Regions from separate parts of the Homo sapiens genome. Here region 2 is linked to region 1. The links come from fine-mapping of genetic effects on gene expression. A gene starts in region 1. The other region holds a variant in brackets. All regions are shown on one strand. Distances are from middle to middle.

The links.
Region 2: its variant is fine-mapped to the expression of DCAF4 in tibial artery (GTEx, PIP above 0.99).

Annotation. Positions count from the first base shown.
Region 1 is chr14:72,924,970-72,927,689 of GRCh38, forward strand. It overlaps DCAF4 (DDB1 and CUL4 associated factor 4), which reads left to right and starts at 1,495. Exons shown (of 14, transcript NM_015604.4): 1 at 1,495-1,574. RefSeq lists enhancers at 1-473, 874-973, 1,264-1,533, 2,205-2,720 and a silencer at 1,704-1,763.
Region 2 is chr14:72,812,083-72,815,087 of GRCh38, forward strand. The region is part of intron 1 of DPF3 (double PHD fingers 3); the gene reads right to left. Among named protein-coding and RNA genes, the nearest start is that of DPF3, 81 kb to the right of the region's middle. The variant C/T (reference allele first, on the strand shown) is at 1,628.

The DNA.
Region 1 (2,720 bases):
GGCGCTATCTCGGCTCACTGCAACCCCCGCCTCCCGGGTTCAAGCAATTCTCCTGCCTCAGCCTCCTGAGTAGCTGGGATTACAGGCGCCCGCCACCACGCCCGGCTAATTTTTTGTATTTTTAGTAGAGTTGGGGGTTTCGCCATGTTGGCCAGGCTGGTCTGGAACTCCTAGCCTCAAGTGATCCACCCGCCTCAACCTCCCAATGTGCTGGGATTTCAGGCGTGAGCCACTGCACCCGGCCTGACTACTCTTTCCCTGGCAATTGCTGCGTCACCAAGCCCCAACCCACCCTGCTGAGTTTTCCTTCCAAGACTCCCCTCCCATCCAGCCGGCTTGAACCGGCCTCCAGTCACGTTGTTTGTTCAGCTAGAATTTTTCTCTGCCTTCTCTTCAAGGCCGCTCAAGCTTCATGAAGCGGTTCTTTATTCTGACTATGCCCACTTCTCTCATTTCCCTCATCACCCGGCCCCGCTCCACATACTGCATTTATCTATAAACTCCTGAGAGCCAGGAGTTTAGCCTGAAATCCTAGCTTCCTGGTTAAGAGCTGAAATGCCTTCGCACGGCGTGCAATGGGTGAACCCCACCGCCTGCTTTCTAACGGGTCCAAGCCGCGGGCAGGGGCCTGTGTTACGGAGCCGCATGACACACCAGGCCTACTGCTGGACCCCAACAAGCCTAGCCTCTGTGAATCCAGCTGTCCTCACAAACTGTCTCTTCGGGACACAAGCCCATCAGAGGCTTCCGTTTTCCTTTCATAAGATCTCATAACCGTCAGCTGATACCTGGGACAGGCACAGCACACATAGGTCATTCTAGAAATATTGGTGGTCTGAACAAACTCTAAGCTGGAGAGGACATGAGAATGATAGATCCGATTCCTTCTCTCAACAGAAGAAATCAAGGCACAGAGAAGGGAAGAGACTCGCCCTAGGTCCCACAGCAAGCAGCAGTACTGGAGCCAACACGGAGGCCCCCCGGTTTCACGGTCAGGGCTCGCTACGCTACACCCTGAACGCAGACCCAGGGCAGCGGCCTCGGCCGCCTGAGGCCACTGCCGAAGACTTCGCCGCCAGTCGTAACATCACGTTACTTCTGTCCCTCGCCTCACAGACTCCTTCGCTCTTTCCACTACAGCGAGAGGACTTCTCCAGGGCCGCATCACCCTGCGGAGGGAGGAAGACACGGTCTCTCACGAAAGGGTCTCCAGACAGTTCCGCTGCTCCGGGAGCAGCCCCCGGCCCCGCCCCCGCGTGCGCCTGGCCCCACCCCCAAGCGCTCCATGACCAGCCTCCACGTGCATCCGCCCCAGACAGGCCAGGCCTGGGAGGAGCCGAAGCCCCACTCCCCGCCTTCTTCATGAGATCGTCCCTATTGACGTCGACAGACAGAAGCCGCGTCCAGTGAGAAGGAAAGAACGGCCGCTATAGCCCTATCGGCTGCTACAACACCAAAACGCATCCACCTAACTGGCTGACGCTACACCTTGGTCTTTCCGGGTCCTTGCACGCTTCGCTCCAACTCCTGCAGAGCTGAGCCGGAGGGGAATCCGGAAGGGACACGCTGAACAGGTAAGACTGTGCTGCCTGGGGTGCCTACTGGCATCGATTCGAGGGCTGCCGCGCTCCCGCTGCAGAGCTCGGGGTGGGAGACAGGCGCGGCGAGGAAGGCCAGGGAAAGGGGCGGGGAGGGGCGGGGAGGAGTGAGCACGTGGAACGCCGGCGCCACCGGGCCTAGGTGGCAGCTGGGCCGGCGCGCTCCGCCCGTTCTGGGGCGCGTGGGGCCCTCCGGCCGGATCAGTGCTGCAACCGTAAACACGCAGGGAGGGCACCCCGAGTGTCGCCGCTGAGGGCGTTTCTCTAAGCGCTTCTCTGAGACCTGCTGCTGAAGGCCCCACCCGACACCTGGCGGGGGCTGGGCTGCGGGCCTTGGGGCGGTGTCCCCTGTGAATGTTCAGGTCAGCATAACAGGTTAGGTGTGGTTGAAGCTTACGAAGTGGCCGGCTCTGTGCTGCCGGCTTCACAGGCGCTAACATTTGCCAGCGCTATGATGTCCTTGTCAGACGCAGAAAGGGGTGCAGTTTGGTTGTCCGTCGGGGTAGCGCACAACTAGCAAGTGATGGGGCCTGGGTTTGGCCCTCGCCTCCACTCTGAGTTGTGAGTTAGCGAGAAAGCCACGCCTCGTGGGCTCCCCGGGGGCTTCAGAAACCATGACGCCTTTCACCATGGTGTTCTACAGGCATTGTCTTGTGACTCCAGCAGCGCAGCCAGAAGCAAAGAAAACTGAGGGGACGGCTTCCTAGAGGAAACAATTCCAAAGTCCCAAACTCTGATTTTAAATAACGATGGAAATTAGAGTCGCGGTGGTGTTCTTTTTTTTTTTTTTTTTTTTTTTTTTTTGAGGCGGAGTCTCGCTGTCGCCCAGGCTGGAGTGCAGTGGCACGATCTCGACTCACTGCAGCCTCCGCCCCCGGGGTTCACGCCATTCTCCTGCCTCAGCTTCCCGCGTAGCTGGGGCTACAGGCGACCACCACCTCGCCCGGCTAATTTTTTGTATTTTTAGTAGAGACGGGGTTTCACCGTGTTAGCCAGGATGGTCTCGATCTCCTGACCTCGTGATCCGCCCGCCTCGGCCTCCCAAAGTGCTGGGATTACAGGCGTGAGCCACCGCGCCCGGCCTGAGGTGGTGTTCTGTGGGTAACCAGGCCTGGGGGTCCT
Region 2 (3,005 bases), 110 kb before region 1:
GGAGGCAAGGAGGGAGGCCAGCCATGTTAAAGACCAAGTTAAAGACCAAAGTGGCTGCAGCACCATGAGATACCAGTGTAGTCCCCCACCTTCTCTCATAGTCCCTTACCCTGAGGCTGCTCCCACCAGCCCCGCTTACCTTTTTCCCATCCCCACCCCCGGCCCCCAGCCTCTCCCATCCCACAGGCAGGGCAGGTTCCTGGTAACAGCATTGCCCAGTGTTGTCAAAATAGCGAGGAGCTGGAAAGAATTCCAGAATGAAATCTATGTGCCTCTGCAGCCTCCCAACTGACTGCCACTGTGGCAGCTAAACCCGCTAATGTGCTAAGCGTTTTCTGGCAGGGCCAGGAGGCAGGGTTGGTATTTTGGGAGCTGGGAGGGGCTTGGAGGCAACATCCTCGGCAAGTCTGGGAAGGAGGTGGAGGCAGGGAGGCAAAGGGAACCGACCCAGAACACTTCCCATGACGTCACCGAGAGCCACCTGAGCTGCACCTCAGGATTCCTGAAACACTGCTGGCGGAGCGGAGAGTACGGAGAGTACGCTGGGCCCGGTGGGCAGGGCTCAGCAGGGCATGGAGGCTTTGTAGCTAGGCCTGGGGGGAGAGGGCGCTCTAGTATGCCACTTGTCATGTACACTTTTTCTGCTGACACAGAGCAGTGTGCAATGCGTCCGGGAGGCTGGGCAGCCCAGGGCTGGCCCAAGCTCTGTTTGCCTGAGTTGGCAGTGGCAGGGCCCATGGTGACCAAACAAAAGACGGGAAGCCAAACGCCCAGAGGCTGGCGGGTGAGGCTCCCTGAGAGGGCTCTGAGGATACAGGCACTGGCGAAGAAGGGCCAGGGGCTCATAGGGATAGGAATGGGGTTGGGGGCAATGGGAACTTGCAGGCAGGGTCCCCTCTGGTTTCCCAGACACACCGCATCGCCTCTGGGCATCAGCCTCTCCACACTGTCCTTGCTTTTCGGGGGCTCCTTCGAAAATGCTTCAAACCATGACACCAGGAAGGGGAGCAAACCACCAAATCTGAGATCCAAACAAGGTCCCAGCATTCCTTTGTCCCTGATGGGCTTGGCTCCAAATTCTGGGAGAAACCAGAGGGTTTTGAGAGAGTCAGGAGAGGGGTTCAGGGGACAAAAAATAGGGCTGGTGAAGAATTCCTTCCGGGAGCCGTCTGGTAGCAGGGAGTACCGTGGGTGGCAAGGCCGTGCTGCTCAGGTGAGGGGACATGGTGTCATTCTGGGAACAGATGAGCCAGTAAAACCCTGACAGGATTCAATCTGGAGGAAAAAAATCCCAGCTGATAGGAACTGCTGAGCGCTTGCAGCTTTTAAAGCCCCTCTAGCAAAAGGATCTGCAAAAGCTTTGCAAACTCTGACCACGCAGCCAGTCAGCCACTTCCCAGCCCACAGCAACGAGAGAGTTTTTGCTACATCAGAACAAACCCACTCACAAATATCTCATCCTGGCCTCCCCCCCGGCACCCATTCCTTTTGGGTCTGTGTGCCTGCCTTCCTCAGAAATGACATTTTGTCAGAGCAGTGAGAGATAGTGTTGCAGGGGCCAAAGGCAGCCAGGGGGCTGGACTGCAACTAGGCTCCCCTGCTCACTAGCGGCTGACCCCAGGCAGGG[C/T]ACTTAACCTTTATGAATCTCATTTTTTAATCTGCAAAAATGCAAATAATGAAGCTGCTCTTACAGAGTTGGTGAGAGGACTAAATGAGATGATGGATGCTGGGGCTCGAGCACAGAGATGAGGGGCTCCATGACGGCTGGTCCCCCTCCTTCCCACCTTCCTCTCCAGGGCCCTCCGGCACCATAATCAGTGTGGGAAGGATGCAGAACAATGGGAGTTTAATTCAGAGGTTGGCGAGGCAAAGGCATACTTTAATAGAATTCTCTCTCGCCCAGTACATGGTTTCTTGTCCACCCCACCCACCTTTCCCCATCTCTACCGGCTGATAGTCTCTCAGCTAGTAGACCTTTTCTTGTTTAGCAGGGCCACTTTTTTTAAAAACTCCAGACGGGTACCCTCCATGTTGCAGGCGACGTGGCCCTGGATCACTCAACTGACTGTCATTTGAATGGTGCCCCCAGAGTGAGGCAATGGTGCAGCCCTCCTAAGGCCCTTCCTGAGTGTCCCTCCTTCATGAAGATGATTCTGAGGCTTCCCAGGCCTTCACCCTTCTTTGAAAGCCCATAGCAGTTCATATGCACTTCTCTTCTATGCTCACCAAACTCTGCCTTCATCATACTTGGGGGATGTGTGTGAGAGCGAGAGAGAGAGTCCAGCAGGGATTAGATCTGACTTTTATATTCTCTACAGTGCCTGGCACAATGCTAACACATTTGATGAGGCCAGAATTACCCTGATACCAAAACCAGTTAAAGACATTACCAAAAAGAACTTTTTCAATATTTTAATTCTTACCTCATACCCTAGATAAAAATTAACTTGAGCGGGGTGTGGTTGCTGACACCTGTAATCCCAGCACTTTGGGAGGCTGAAGCAGACGGATCTCTTGAGACCAGGAGTTTGAGACCAGCCTGGCCAACAAGGTGAAACCCCGTCTCTACTAAAAATATAAAAATTAGCTGGTCATGATGGCAGGTGCCTGTAAGCCCAGCTACTTGGGAGGCTGAGGAGAACTGCTTAACCGGGAAGGCAGATGTTGCAGTGAGCCGAGATCGCGCCACTGCACTCCAGCCTAGGCGACAGAGCGAGACTCCGTCTCCAAAAAAAAAAAAAAATTAACTCGACATGGATCGTAGAGCTAAATGGAAGACTAAAACTTTCAAACTTCAGAAAGAAAACTTGGAAGAAACTTTTTCTAACCTTGGGTTAAGCAAAAATTTTCTTAAATAGGACATAAAATGCATGAGTCGTAAAGGAAAAAAATTGATACATTGGACTTCACCAACATTTTAAATGTCTACTCTTTGAAAGGCACTAATATGAAAATGAAAACACAAGCTACAGACTGAGAGAAAATATTTGCAAAACATATATCTG